Linked DNA regions of Homo sapiens: region 1 is linked to region 2. The links come from fine-mapping of genetic effects on gene expression. Tissue or cell type: skeletal muscle. Region 2 holds a variant in brackets; the other region holds the start of a gene. All regions are shown on one strand. Distances are from middle to middle.

Region 1 (8,000 bases), 110 kb before region 2:
ATATATTCCATTATATATATATATATGTATGTTCCATTGTATGGAATATACATCCATATGTATATATGTATGTTCCATATGTATATATGTATATTCCATATATATATTCCACAGAATATATATATTTGACAGAACTAATAGAATATATATTCTATGTATATATTCTATACATATATTCTATACATATTCTATACATATATTCTATATATATTCTATATATTATATATTCTATATATATTCTATATATTATATATTCTATATATATTCTATATTATATATTCTCTATATATTCTATATATTATATATTCTATATATATTCTATATATTATATATTCTATATATTATATATTCTATATATTATATATTCTATATATATTCTATATATTATATATTATATATATATATTCTATATATATATTCTATATATATAATATAATATTCTATATTATATATATAATATATTCTATATATTATATATATTATATATTCTATATATTATATATTATATATTCTATATATATTATATATATTATATTATATATTATATATATAATATATATTCTATATTCTATATATTCTATATATATTATATGTTCTCTATATATTCTCTATATATCTATATATTCTATATATATTCTGTATATATTCTATATATATTCTATATATATTCTATATATTCTATATATATTCTATATATACTCTATATACATTCTATATATACTCTATATATTCTATATATACACTGTATATATTCTATATATATATACTCTATATATCTATATATAAAATCTATATATATTCTATATATAGATATATAAACTATATCAAGTGATCTGCCTGCCTCAGCCTCCCAAAGTGCTGGGATTACAGGCATGAACCACCGTGCCCAGCCAAACCTTTTTTCTTTTCATTACCATTTCAGGATTCTGTTTAAAACAGAGGTAAGAAATGAGGTTTATTTGAAGCCAGGCCCTGTACAAAGTCTTTGTTAGTTGAAATATTTCTCAGAGGTACATAAAGCCTCTAAAGCTCTTATTACCTATTTACTAACCCTCCCTTTTAAATACGTTTACTGCTTTTACTACTAGATTTTTTTTAATGGGAGGCGTATTTTTACAGTTTCCTATTTGCAAGGTGGGAAAACGGAAACAAAGATTCTGTTCTCTTCTTGTAAGGACCCTAATCCCATCACAAGGGCCCGCTCTCATGATCTCATCTAACCTCCCAAACGTCCCATCTCCAAATACTATCACACTGGGGGTCAGGGTGTCCACATATGAATTTGAGAGGGACACAATTCAGTCTATGACATGGACTCTGTTCCTAGTGGAGAGTGGTGGAACGAAGGAGGCAGTTACTGCAAGCATGAATACATCCGCACATGGTCTGGCTCATCACAGAGGGCAAAGGTAAGATCCTGTGAACTTTGTGCTCCACCGCCACAGTGTTACAAAAACACTCTCTTCTCCAGAAAAATGGAAGGAGGAGGCAATGTTGGGCTAGCATTCCTGCCTGGTATCACTGGCTGAGACTGAGCAGTGGCTTCCCTCTTTGCACAGGAAAAGGGCTCTCCAGGTCTCCCAGGTCCCCACCACTCCCTGTCATCTTAGACTCTTTTAACTTCTCTTCTTTGATTTACCCACCACCTGGCCAGAGCAGACACTTAGGTTTGTTACCTCTGGTTGGTGACTATGGCTGACAACCTTTTTTGTGGTTCTAGACACTTCAGAATCTAGTGAGAGTTGTCGACCCTCTGTCTAGCAAGAGCACATCACAACACATTGTGCGTTCAATTTAGAGGTTTGTGGCCTCTCCTAAGCCCAGGCTACAGACTCTCAGGGTGAGAATTTCTGAGTCAGAGATAATGTTGTCCTCTTCCATCTTCAAACCATCTTTTCCCATGGTTGGCTCCTTCTCAACACTGGAGTTTCAACTCAAACAGCAACTCCTAGATGTCTTCCCTGACCCACAGTTAGGTAGCTGTCCATCCTCCCTCTCCTGCTCCTTTTTATCTCAGCTTTTATTTTCCCTAGGAGACTTCTCGCTCTCTGAAATGGTCTGGTTCAGGCTGTATTGTTTGACTTAGCCCTCACCCCCTGAATGTAATATTAGCGGGCACTGTAGCCCAGCGGAACCCACCAGGCACTTGGTAAGATCTTGCTGAAATGTATGAATGATTGGAAGTGTGTCCGGAGTTGGTTTCTTCCAGTGGGTTCCTAGTCTCGCTGACTTCAAGAATGGAGCCGCGGACCTTCGCAGTGAGTGTTAAAGCTCTTAAAGATGGCACAGTCCCAAAGAGTGAGCAGCAGCAAGATTTATTGTGAAGAGCAAAAAGCTTCTGCAATGCGAAAGGGCACCTGAGAGGGTTGCTGCTGCTGGCGGGGGTGGCCAGCTTTTATTCCCTTATTTGCCCCCTCCCCCACGTCCCCCCGCCCTCCCCCGCCCCCCGCCGTCCCCCCGCCCTCCCCCCCGCCCCCGTCTTCCCGCCCCCCCCGCCCCCGTCTTCCCCCCGCCCACCCCGCCCCCCCCGCCCCCCTTCGCCCCCCCATGTTCCGTTTTTGTCCTATCAGAGCGCCCTTTTTTCAATCCTCCCTGTGATTGGCTTCTTTTAGGATCCTGCTGATTGGTGCATGTTACAGAGCACTGATTGGTGCGTTTTACAGAGCGCTGATTGGTGCATTTTACAATCCTCTTGATAGCTATAGAAAAGTTCTCCAAGTCTCCACTCACCCAGAAAGTCCAAATGGCTTCACTTCTCAGAAGGATCCCTCCATCTCGGGCTCCTAGAGGCTTCAGGCAGGAGGAGCCACGTGAGAGAGAAACCCTGCCTACGGTGACCTCCAGTTCCTAGACCACCCACTCGGAGCACGGCGCTCGGCTGTGCCCGTGAGCCTCAGGAGGGCGGAAGCTTCCGGGCCGGAACGGGTGTGCACAGCGCGCCGGTTACGGGGGGGCAACTTAACGGGCCGGACCGCGGCGACTACCGAGGGAGGTGAGGGGCGGGCCGGGCGGGTGTCCGAGGCGGCGGCGGCGGCATGGCAGGGCGGCGGGTGAACGTGAACGTGGGCGTGCTGGGCCACATCGACAGCGGCAAGACGGCGCTGGCGCGGGCGCTAAGCACCACAGCCTCCACCGCCGCCTTTGACAAGCAGCCGCAGAGCCGCGAGCGCGGCATCACGCTCGATCTGGGCTTCTCGTGCTTCTCGGTGCCGCTGCCCGCGCGCCTGCGGTCGTCTTTGCCCGAGTTCCAGGCAGCGCCCGAGGCCGAGCCCGAGCCCGGCGAGCCACTGCTTCAGGTCACGCTGGTCGACTGCCCCGGGCACGCCTCCCTCATCCGGACCATCATCGGCGGTGAGCGCGGGCCGGGGCGGGAGCCGGGCTCAGGGACGCGGGCGGAGCGACCGGGCCCCGTGTCCGAATTCGCTCGAGCCTTTGCCGGGACGGGAAATCGCCCCACCTCATTGGTGGGGCTCCTGACGCCCCAAGAGGCGGACGTGACTTGCCTAGGGCTCCGCAGCAAGTGAGCGGAGGCTTTGAGATTCAGCTTTTCCCATCCAGCAGAACCGAGCTGCAAGGCGCCTTCCTTAAAAAAAAAAAAAAAAAAAAATCAAAAAATCCCTACCAAATGTGTTTATAATACATGGTCAAGTAAAGAAAACTCAAAATAAGAAAACTCACAAGCTACAAAAAGGGTATACATACAAAGGCTGTCTTCATTCACCTGTCATTTGGTCTGATTCCCGTTCCTAGAGCCAACCGCTGCTACCAGTTTTTGTATATCATTTCAGAAAGGCTCCACGTCAATACAAGCATATCTGTGTGTATGTATAAATCCCTCTTTCCCTCATCCTTTTAGACACGATTTCACTCAACATTGTGTCTGGAGAGTGCCCCATATCTGTACACAAAGCTACATCATTCTTTTTAAAGCTCACATAGAATTCAACTGCACCCTTGTACCAACATTTTCTTTTTCTTTTTTTTTTTTTCTTTTTGAGACAGAGTCTTGTTCTGTCGCCCAGCCTGGAGTGCAGTGGCACGATCTCGGCTCACTGCAACTTCCGCCTCCTGGGTTCAAGCGATTGTCCTGCCTCAGTCTCCTGAGTAGCTGGGATTACAGGCGCGCGCCACCACGCCCGGCTAATTTTTTTGTATTTTCAGTAGAGACGGGTTTCACCATGTTGGTCAGGCTGGTCTCAAACTCCTGACTTCATGACCCGCCCGCCCTGGCCTCCCAAAGTCCTGGGATTACAGGCGTGAGCCACCACGTCCGGCCTGTACCAACATTTTCTGAACAAATCTTTTAATGATGGACGTTTATGCTGTTTCCAGTATTTACAAACCATTTTGCAGTGAATATTCTAGAACAGAACTCTTTGGTATGTTCGCATATATGTAGGATAATAGATAATAACTGGCTGGGGCAAGGGGCATGTGTGTTTTCGGTCGTGGTGGGTACTGCCAAAATGCCCCACAAAGAGGTACCATTAATTTTTAATTATACATGTAATACATGAATACATGCTACTTGTGAAGAAATAGAACATCACAAATAAGACAAACATTCCCTTACCCACTCCTCTGTCCTAAATTCTGTACCCCTCCTATCTCTGCAAATGAAAAGACCCGTTTTTTGTTTTTTTGTTTTTTTGTTTTTTTCTGAGATGGAGTCTCGCTCTGTTACCAGGCTGGAGTGCAGTGGTGCAATCTTGGCTCACTGCAACCTCTTTCTCCCCGGTTCAAGCGATTCTCCTGCCTCAGCCTCCCAAGTAGCTGGGACTACAGGTGCACATCACCACACCTGGCTAATTTTTATATTTTTAGTAGACATGGGGTTTCACCATATTGGCCAGGATGGTCTTGATCTCGACCTCGTGATCCCCATGCCTCGGCCTCCCAAAGTGCTGGGATTACAGGTGTGAGCCACTGTGCCTGGCTGAAAAGACCATTATTATACCTTTGTGGATTACTTTTCCAGACCCATTTAACTCCACTTAAATATATGGATAGAGTTTTAAAACATGTTTTGTTTTTAGAAAAAATGATACAATAATATAAACACATGGTATAAAAGGGTATATAGCTAAAGAAGTATACTTCTCACTGCTGACCCCAGTACCTGATTACCTTTCTGTTCCCATTTTCTTGTGTTTCCTTCCAGCAATATTCTGTATGCCACACATGGGAATATATATTGGGCAGATGATAATTGGCTTGGTGGCAGATGGCCTCATTGGTCACTGGGCATTCTGGGTCCCAGCTATAATGGTGAGCTTGTTAAGTACAGTACTTCATCTTTGTTACCTCCCAACTGTTTCATGTTACAGGCAGTCTGAGATCATTTCCCCATTTTACAGTAGAGGAAATAGAAGTTTGAAGAAGTGAAGGGACTTGCTCAGGGTCACACTATCTAAAGTCTTCTCCTCAATCCATGTTTCAGTCAGGTGAATTTCAAGGGGCACACAATTCTCTACCCATTCCTCCCTGCCCCCTTATAACTGAATTCTGTTTGGTCACATCAAAGTACATTTTAGAACATGGACTCTGAGCCAGTCCAGACTGGAGGTGGAAGGCAGAGGTTAAAAAATGAGATGGCGAGTTTTTAGTGTTGTCTAGTAAATAGGGTAGATGAGTGGTGAAGGACATACTTTTGGAGTCAGACAAAACTGGGCTTGAAGCCTAGCTTGCTTTCTTCCTTAGCTGTATGACGTTTGAACCTAATTCTGGACCTTGCTCCAACTGGAAGATAGTGGTAACCACACAACTATTTATTGGCTTGACTTTTCTTGTGTATTTGCTGCTTACCAGGCAAACCCTGCAAGGAGCGTGGTGGTTACCATTTAATAGTTGAGAAAATTGGGACTTAGGGAGGCAGGTAGTTAGTGAAACAGTCCAGGTCTGCCTGACTCCAAAGCTGGAGTCCTTTGCATGCTTCCCCAGGTTACCCTATAGTTCCCTCATCCGCTTCCAACATACGTGCATACCTCATGTTATTGTGCTTCACTTGATTGTACTTTGCAGATAGTGGTTTTTACAAATCGAAGGTTCAAGGCAACCCATCCAACAGCATTGCTTACTTTGTGTCTCTATGCCACATTTGGGTTATTCTTAACAATATTTCAAACTTTTCATCAAATATTAAGCATCAAACATTTCACTTCATTTCAAACACATGTCATCTGTTAATGGTGATCTGGGATCAGTGATCTTTGATGTTACTATTGTAATTTTGAAATGTCACAAACAATGCTTATGTAAGGCAGCAAACTTAATAAATGTTGTGTGTTTTCTGACTGTTCTACCTACTGGCTTTTTCCCTGTCTGTCTCCCTCTCCTCAGGCCTCCCTATTCCCTGAGACACAACAATATTAAAATTCATCCAGCTAATAGCCTTTATGCGTTCAAGGGAAAGGAAGAGTTGCAAGTCTCTCACTTTAAATCAAAAGTTAGAAATGATTAAGCTTAGTGATGAAGGCAATGTTGAAGACTGAGATAGGCTGAAAGCAAGGCCTCTTACACCACACCAAACAGCAAAGTTTTGGACGCAAAGGAAAAGTTCCTGAAGGAAATTAAAAGTGCTACTGTAGTGAACACACAGATGATAAGAAAGCAAGACAGCTTTATTGCTTTATAGAGAAAGTTTTAGTGGTCTGGATAGAAAATCAAACCAGCTACCACATTCCCTTAAGTGGAAGCCTAATCCAGAGCAAGGCCCTAACTCTTCAATTCTATGAAGGCTGAGAGAGGTAAGGAAGCTGCAGAAGAAAAGTTTGAAGCTAGCAGAAGTTGGTTCATGAGGTTTGAGGAAAGAGGCCATCTCCAGAACATAAATGTACAAGATGAAACAACAAATGGTGATAGAGAAGCTGCAGCAAGTTATCCAGGAGATCTAGCTAAGATCATTGATGAAGGTGAGTACACTAAACAGATTTTCACTGTAGATGGAACAGCCTTATATGGAGAAGATGCTATGTAGGACTTTCATAGCTACAGAGAAGTCAATGACTGGGTACAAAGCTTCAAAGGACAGGCTGACTCTTGTTAGGGGCTAATGCAGCTGAAGCCATTGCTCATTGACCATTCCAAAAATCCTAGGGCCCTTAAGAATTATGCTAAATCTATTCAGCCTGTGCTCTTGAAATGGCACAACGCAGCCTGGATGACAGCACATCTGTTTATAGCATGGTTTACTGAATATTTTAAGCCCACTGTTGAGACCTACTGCTTAGAAAAAATACTCCTTTCAAAATATTACTGATTGTTGATAATGCACCTGGTCACCTAATGGCTCTGATGGAGATGTACAAAGAGATTAATTTGTTATCATGCTTGCTAACACAGCATCCATTCTGCAGTGTATGGGTCAAGGAGTAATTTTGACTTTCAGGTCTTATTATTTAAGAAATATATTTCATAAGGCCATAGCTGCCCAAGATAATAATTCCTCTGATGGATCTGGACAAAGTAAATTGAAAACCTTCTGGAAAGGATTTATCATTCTAGATGCCATAAAGAACATTTGTGATTCATGGGAGGAGGTAAAAATATCAACAGTAACAATAATTTGGAAGAGGTTGATTCCAACCCTCATGGATGACTGAGGGGTTCAAGACTTCAGTGGAGCAAGTCACTGCAGATGTGGTAGAAATAGCAAGAGAGTTAGAATGAGAAGTGGTGCCTGAGGATATGACTGAATTGCTACAATCTCATGATCAATCTTGAGTGGATGAGGAGTTGCTTCTTGTGCATGAGCAAAGAAAGTAGTTTCTTGAGATGGAACCTACTCCTGGTGAAGATGCTGTAAACATTGTTGAAATGACAACAAAGGATTTAGAATATTACATAAACTTAGTTGATAAAGCAGTGGCAAGATTTGAGAGGACTGACTCCAGTTTTGAAAGCAATTCTGTGAGTAAAATGCCATCAAACAGCTTCACATGCTACAGATAAATTTTTGTAAAAGGAAGAGTCACCTGATGTGGCAAACTTCATTGTCTTAT
Region 2 (8,265 bases):
TACAGTGAAGCTTATAACGGGCATTACCAACTTTACAGCATAACCAGGTTCAGCATAAAGGTCAGGAGGCAAAAGTGCAGGAAGTACTCACCTCTTGAGCGTGGCCTGTGCGCGTCAAGCTGTCCCCCCCCAGCATGGAGGTTTGGCATGCTAGGAGCCAGGAGCAGGTTTTGCAGAGGGAGTGCAGAGCGTTGCCTCATGGATGTCCTTAAAGTGACCAGTGGTGGGAGGGCTTCTACTCTACCTTTTATTTGTGGAATGTGGTGGTTTTCCATTTAGATAGTGGCATGAAATTGCGTTTTAAAATAAATATATTTAAGTAAGAACATTAATTCTTTTAAGGAAAATAAATGAGCAAATAGCTTAGATGGCACACAAATTTGACAAAGCTTGTGAAGAGGATGTGGGACAATTGGTCTATGTGCAGGTCAACCCTGAGAGAGGAGGAGGAAGGGAGGGAGCAGAGCGACCTTGATGTTTTGTCATCCCCTCTTTGTGCCCAGGCTGGCACTGGGCTCAATCTTCTGCTTTTGTGTTTTGAAAGACCATTGATGCCATCTTCCAGGTCAGTGTCCCTGGGGAGTGGATGCTGGAGGTCATTCTGGGGATCCCAGCACCGTGGGAAGGACAGGGCTCTGGAATAGGGCTTTTGGGACCAGAGTGCTGAGCTCTGGATTCCTCCTTGCTTCTGCTATTTGCTTCACCTGCGACCCTTTAGCAATCATTTGACCTCTCTGTGCCTCAGTTTCCTCATCTCTAAAATGATAATATAATACCTGACATCATTGCTGTGAGGATTAAATGGAGTCATGTGAAAGCATCTAGCCAGGTGCTGTGTGCATGGTGGGTGCTTCACCAATATTTGGAGAATGAATGTGTGACTCTGAATATGGGAATGATGACAGAAGTTCTTCCTACCTTAGAGGGTTGTTAAGAATTCAATAAATTTATGTCTGCAATTTGAAAGTGATAGCAAACTGTCATAGTATTGGGTACTATAATTATAGCTATCATATCGTTTTTTCGTTGGTTTGAGAACTAAAATTACATATATTTAATGTATGTAATTAAGGGCAAGGGTTTTATTAATCTGGCTACAGGACTTAAATATATGTTCCCTGATCCTTGAAGATCAGCTGCTTTCCAAATTCTCATATGGATTTGAGAAGGGACACATGCCCCTGCCTCCAACCTAGGCTGATGGAGGATTGTTCTCATGATAGTCTCAGGTTTAAAGTAAACTCAGAGTTGGCTTTAAATCACAGCCCCACCACTCATTAGCCTGTGGCCTGGAACAAGCTACCAAAGCTAGCCAAACTTTTAGGACCCTCTTCTATGAAATAGGGGGAGGAAGAATAATACCCACCTTTCAGGATTGTGATGAGAAGATGGGGATTGGAAAGCTTCTAGCACAATTGCTTGTACCATTGGTGCTCGGTAAAAGGTCCTGTCTCTTTCTGCCACTCCCACTGTGTTGCATGCTAGACTATATACAGAGAAGCACTTAGAGCAAGCCTCAGTGTCAGGAAGGTAAGGGTGGCTCTTCCTGGCGGAAACAAACTCCAGAACTAGAAGTGCTACAGAAATGTCTCCTGAAAATACATTGGGTATACAAACAATTGGAAGTGGTTCAATATTGTATGGCTTACTTATTAAGGCAATGCAATACAAATTAAAATGAAGTATATATTAAAAATAATTTTTAAAAGACTATTTTGTTATGTGTGCAGTGAAATAGGCATCTTAGATGTCCATTGTGGTAGTGGAAAAGGTAGCATACCTTTCAATCTATTTTCTCTGTAATTGAGATAGAATTCACATACTATGAAATTCATACTTTCAATGTGGAAAGAATTGTACAGCCATCACCACTATCTAATTCCAGAACATTTTCATTACCCCAACAGGAAATTGTATTCATTAAGCCCTTTGCTCCTCATTCTCTGTGCGCCACCAGCCTGGGAACTACTAATCTCCTTTCTGTTTTATGGACTTACCTATTCTGGTATTTCATATAAATGGAATTGCACAATATGCAACCTTTTGTGTCTGACTTCTTTCACCTAGCACAGTGTTTTTGTGGTTCATCCACACTGAAGTATGTATTGATGCTTCATGTCTTTTTATGTCATGTCTTTTTATGTCACAACAGAATAATATTCTGTTGTGTATATATACACAACATAGTTTGTGTATCCATTCATCTATTGATAGACATTTGAGATGTTTCTACTTTTTGGCTATTGTGAATAGTGCTACTCTGGACATGTATGGATATGTACTTCTTTGAGTATTTGTTTTCTGTTCTTTTTGGATATATATCTAGGAGTGGAATAGCTGGATCATGTGGTGATCCCATGTTTCCCTTCATTTTTGTAACATTTTTTACTGCATATAAAATTCTTGGTTGGTAGATTTTTTTTATTTTTATTTTTAACTTTCACTTCTTTGAATATATTATCCTGATACCTTCTGGCCTCCACGATTTCTCCTGAGAAACCAGCTGCAAATCTTATTATGGATTCCTTGTACATGAGTTCAGTCGCTTCTTTCTTGATGGCTTCAAGATTCTCTTTGTCTTTGGCCTTCAACAGTTAGATTGTAATGTGCCAGGTGTGGGTGTCTTTGAGTTTATCCTATTTAGAGTTTATTGAGATTCTTGAAAGTGTAGATATTTTCCATGAAATTTGAGAAGTTTTTGGCTATTAAATATCACAGCTTCCCTCAGGCAGCTGTGATGTTAAACAATTGCCTCTGATTATTTTCAACAAACTCCCCCAGGGAAAAGGCTATTTGCACTAAGCAAGCTCCAAGGCAGGTCAAATAAATATAGCATTGTGAGTAGGGCCTTCCAGGGAGCCACCAGACTGGAAAATCATGATCGTTCTCTGGAAGAAGGGCTTTGAAGGAGCTCAAACCCATTCTGCCCCTTTCAGTGCCTGGCATGCTACTGGTTTTCACCATGATTGGTTTTCAGGACAGCTGCAGAGTTAGCATAGGAAGAGGGCAAGTTAAAACATCAAAAGCTCACTTGGTTTTACTGAGACTCTTCTTGAATAAACACTCCACAGATTGCTCAAGCCTTTGGTTAATTTCCAGAGTTCTGAACAAGTTGATTCTGATCATTTTTGCCAGTGTTCTTTGTTTCCATGGAAGAGGGCTTTTCAGATGTCCTTGCTGTATCATTTTGCTGATCTATTAGTGAGTATTCACTCTTAGATGTGTACCCCACGAATTCATCCCACAGCCAAGGCAAAAAAAAAAAAAAAACATTCATGCCCGCTGACATGTTTATCACAGTGTAATTTATAATAGTGAAAAATTTGAAATATCACAAATAAGTAATGGAGGAAAGCATGTACAAGCATGTAAATTCTGGGTCGTACCATTGTCCAGGTGTCAACAATGAAAGAACAGGCCCAGGTGGAGAGAAGTGTGACAAAGAGACTGAGAGCCCTGGCTTCAGACTCAGATGGGCTGGGTTCAAATGTGGCTCTAAGGTTTATAGCCAACAACTTGGAGCAAATCAGTTAGACTCCCTAAGCCTCATTTTCTCATCTATAAGATGGCAACAACTCCATCATGTGTTGTAGATGCTTTCATTTAAACCTCACATTATAGGCTTGGCTCAGCCATGTAAGTTGTTATTGTTGTTGCTGTCATTCAACAGAAAGTTCTTTGTGATATAATGGTAAATAAATTAGCAGGATATGAAATCGTATACATACTATAACCAAAATCTGAAAAAAAGAATCCCTTGGCAAAGCATGGGAAAACCATGGTTGGAAGAAAATACACCAAATGATGGGATTATGGGTTATTTATTTTCTCTTTCCCTCTTTTTTTTTTTTTTTTTTTTGCCCTAACAATGTTCCTTTTTTTAAATGGGAAAGATAAATGTCCACACAGAATAAGTATGTCTTCTTAAAGATGCGGGGGCTTTGCTAGTAGAGTTTAGGCAAGAATGCTCTGCATTAGAAACTGAGATTGTAGAGGCGTGCTTCCAGGTACATCTGCAGATACTTTTTGGTCACTATTATTTCTTGCATCTCTTCAGAAGGCTGAGATGTATTTATTGGTCTTCTTCAAGGAGGTCTTTTATTCAGAAGCCTAGGGGCCAGGATCACTGCTGCCTCCTTAGGGAGTGCTCTGAAAGTGGAGGTTAATATCTAAGAGAGCCCTTTAAAATTCTGATGTCCAATGCAGGGACATTTCCCCCAGACGGGGAAATTTGGGGCCTCCATTGCATCATGTGCCATGTGCTAGTACAGTGGTGCTGTCTTCTAGGCTTGGTTGATGTGGGGAGAGAAGAGGATGCTCACTGCACTTGGTACTGTGCCAGGTGCTTCATGGACGTGCTTTGTGTCCATGTTGCTGATCTCTGTAACTGTGATGGGACTTATTTTCCATTTCAGGTTCCGAGGTGCACCGATTATACC[C/T]GTGGCGGCCAAGCCGGGGGGACCAGAGGCCCCCGAAACTGAAGCTCCACAGGGCATTCCAGAGCTCATTGAGGTACTGTCATCTTGAATCCAGGTTGCCCTTTAGCCCCAGCGCTGCTCAGGCCAGCCCCTTTGTGTCCCTCTCTCCCCTGAGAGAGAAAGAGAGGCAGCCCTAGCAAGAGGACTCAGTTGGTTCCATTAACCTCCCTGTTAACACCTTAGCACAACTCCCCCACCTCCCTCAAAAAGGTAGACCCAAACTAGGACTCCTAAGGTTCACTGAAGCCCATGATTCACCCTCCAGCCATAAACTCTGCAGAGCTCGTCACACCTTGCTGTGCCTCACTTTCTCCTTTCTCTTGTCATACCTACACTCAGACAAAGCAGCTCCCACCCATCTGGAACCCTGGGACCGTGACATCCATTCCAGTCCTTCAGACTGTATCAGCTCCTCCAGTACCCCACCTGGGCTGGGGGCCAGTGAGGCAGGGGTGAAAGACATGAGCCCAACAGCAGGGGCAATGCAGCTTCCATCCTGGGCACCTCCACCAAAGATGGGAGGCTTATCTTCGGAAGCTGTGGGGCTGAGGCCCAGGTTGTTCTTCCTAACTTGTGCTGGTAGTCAGGGAGGGAGCCCAGTCATCCATCAGGAAGGGTGTGTGTGGGTGCTGATGGTGCTGGTACTAAGGAAGGTAGCAGTGAGAATGGAGCCACAGAGTTCCTCCACAGAGTGCTCAGGACAGTTCAGCCGGGTGGAGTAGCAACGTGCATGGCTCTGGGGCTGGACTGTGGTTCAGGGGCTAGCTCCACCACCACTCTCTCTGACCTCAGGCAAATGATCTACTCTTTCTTGCCTCAGTTCCTTCACTTGGAAGATAATAGCACATACCTCGTGGAGTTGTGAGGGTTAAATGAGTTAATGTGTATAATGTGCTCGGTACAGTGCCATGTCAGTGCTTACTGTTACAGTGATGTTGATGTTTACAGGCCAGGCACTGTACTAAGTTCTTTACATACAGGATCATTGACATTCACAAAAACTCAGGGAGGCTGAAATTATTTATCCCCATATACCAACGAAGAGTCTGAGATTCAAAGATGTTAAATAACTTGACCCATGTCTGGCAGCGAGTTACACGGTGGAGCTGGGATTCAGACCCAGGTTGATCGCTGGGGTCAGCTTCACGGCCCCCCTGCACCTGGCTCCGCAGAGCCAAGATGAGATGTGACCACGTACATGCACTGCCACCATTTCTGTGATTTACACGTGCTGATCTTGTCAGCTTAGCAAAACAAATGTTTTCTGGGTGAGGCTTTTGTTACTTTTTCATCAGGCTCCTGAGAGCACTTGTCTGGGAGCCTGGGATAGTTGTTTTTGTTAAAGCGAAATCCTCAAAAATGCTGCTTTGAAAGATGTTTGTATATTCCTTTAAGAAGCCCCTACATAAATCTCAGACCAAGCCTGTTTTGTTTGAATCTCTAGTGTTTTTCCAAAAGAATTGTTATCACAAGACTAAGACTTTGGAACATTCACCACTGAATACTTTTTTGACAGCCTGTTCCCTTACGAAGTGAAAAAGTAGCAAACACAAGGAATCCTAGTCTTTGTTTTCATTTGTTTATTGGTGATGAGCCCTGACAGCATCTCCCGGCACACAGGTGGCATGAGGAGAATCGGCTGGTGAGGCTGAGGCGTGTGGAGTCCGCAGAGAAGGAAGGACCCTGGGAACAATCCTTTCCTCCTCCCTCTCCCCACATCCCCTTGTTTCTTCTTCTTTCACTTGTCATTCTCTCAGGCATGATGCCAGCTACTGGAGATACCTGGCTCTCACAGCCCTATGGGGGAGATAATAAAGAGATGATCACAGGAGAGTGTTAGCTATAGTGATGGGGGCAGGGGAAACGTGGCCATACAGAGAAGCCTGTCCAGAGGAGGTATTGCTGCAGTACAGGCGAGGCTCAGCCAGCTGGTAAAACTCTAGGCCTGCTGGCGGCTGGCTTCTGGCATACGTCAGGGAGTGGCGGAAGATGAGGCCTAAAAGGTACCTAGGGGCTAGATGATGAGGAGTTTTAAATTCTGAAGGCATCAGGAGGCTGGGGAAATGCATGAGGCCAGGGAGCAATGCGACAGGGTGTCCTTTAGTGGCTACTCTCCTGCAGCATGGAGGGCCTGGCAGGACAGACCATTGTAGCAGTCCCACGGGAGAAGACAGACGAGGCTTCTCCAGGTGCCCTTTCCTTCAGACTGAGCGGAAAGAGCTGAGAGCATGGCAGAAGCTTGGAATGCAGTCAGGGAGTTAGGTGGTTTTGATCTCCTGTCCACCTTGCCAGGGCATGGACCTCTGAGCTGAGTTCACCTTGGCAGCCTTGATGAACTGCTGGTCAGCCACATTCTCTGCCTTCCTCTGCCCTGCCCCATCTGGCTCCTCTCCCCACGGACTGTGGCACCAGTTTCTCTTTTCTAGCTCCTGACGTCCCAGATTTCCATCCCAACGAGAGATCCCTCGGGACCGTTCCTCATGTCTGTGGACCACTGTTTCTCCATCAAAGGCCAAGGCACTGTGATGACAGGGACCATCCTTTCAGGCTCCATCAGCCTCGGTGACAGTGTGGAGATCCCTGCCCTCAAGGTCAGTCTTACCTTGTCTTCCCTTCTGGCCTCCTCGCTGGCAGCAAGGGAGGGGGACTGTCCCTTTGTCTGTTCAGCTGCTGAGCCTGCTGCTGTGCCTGCCCTGGGACTCCCACTGCCTGCTCCGCCCCACCTCCCCTCTGGCTGCCTGGCCCCGCCCGGCTCCAAGTCTTTCAACTCAGATTCTAGGACTGCTGCTCTCCCTAATTCTCATAGCGCCTGTTTATTGGAGGCCTATGATGTGCCTCAAGGAGGTGTTCCCAAGTAGGTCTTCTGTGTAGATAAAGAAACTGAGGCTCCAGAAGGTGAGGTGGGCTTGAGATCACATGGTTAACAAGTGGGGCTGCTGGAGGGGAAACCTCCCTTTCTGGACGCTGTACGTCAGGGTGGCAAGTATGTGTGGAGTTATTTCTGGGTACCTTTTTCTTAACCACAGTAATTTCAAATTAAACATGACGTGAATCTTATGATGCTCAGAATCACAGAATCTGGAAGAAATCCAGGTTGGTTTTGCACTCCTGGTGGCCATCGACAGATGCCGCATTATTCTTCTGAAGACCTGTGAGAAGGATGAGTGGTTGGTGCCTTCCCATCACCCCTCCTTCTACTATGATGGCCTGGCTCTGATTTAAAAGATAGTGCCTTGATATTCCCCTTATTTAGAAGGCATTTTTAATAGTTTTACTTTATGCGACAAGAGAAACTTACAGCCTCATTGACTGCCCTCCCCTTCAACAAGAATAAAAGGTAGGGAACACATGCTACTTAGAATTCATGTGAGACCTTGCCTGGAATGCTGGGGTCCAGGGCAGTTCTCTAATCCTTGAAGGAGCCTACAGTGCAGGGAAGTGGAGGTGCTCAGCCCTGTGGACTCAGCTAGCTGCTAGAGAGGCTTGGATGTGCATGATTTCAATTTGCATGTTAATTGGGAATGGCTACCTGGAGGCTGTATTGAGGCATTTTAAGGTTGTCTGGCTCACTAGGTGTGTTGGTTAAGGTTCTCCGGAGAAACAGAACCAATGGGAGATACAGATATCTAGGTATCTATAGATACATAGGTAAAGATACATAGATGTAAATATGTAGATATCTGTATCTCCTATTAGTTTTGTTTTGCTGGAGAACACCAACTAATGCACCTAGTATTAGATGCAGATAGATAAATAGATACGTTTTTTAAGGAATTTGCTTATACTA

What was found. PIP is the estimated chance that this variant, and not a neighbour inherited with it, causes the effect.
Region 1: it holds the start of EEFSEC, and the variant in region 2 is fine-mapped to the expression of EEFSEC in skeletal muscle (GTEx, PIP 0.93).

What each region holds. Positions count from the first base shown.
Region 1 is chr3:128,150,473-128,158,472 of GRCh38, forward strand. EEFSEC (eukaryotic elongation factor, selenocysteine-tRNA specific) reads left to right here and starts at 3,009. Exons shown (of 7, transcript NM_021937.5): 1 at 3,009-3,351. The coding sequence starts at 3,036. It also overlaps a transcript of RUVBL1 not described here. RefSeq lists an enhancer at 2,640-2,869 and a silencer at 3,000-3,519.
Region 2 is chr3:128,257,713-128,265,977 of GRCh38, forward strand. It overlaps EEFSEC (eukaryotic elongation factor, selenocysteine-tRNA specific), which reads left to right. Exons shown (of 7, transcript NM_021937.5): 3 at 4,416-4,512; 4 at 6,905-7,069. Among named protein-coding and RNA genes, the nearest start is that of EEFSEC, 110 kb to the left of the region's middle. The variant C/T (reference allele first, on the strand shown) is at 4,440.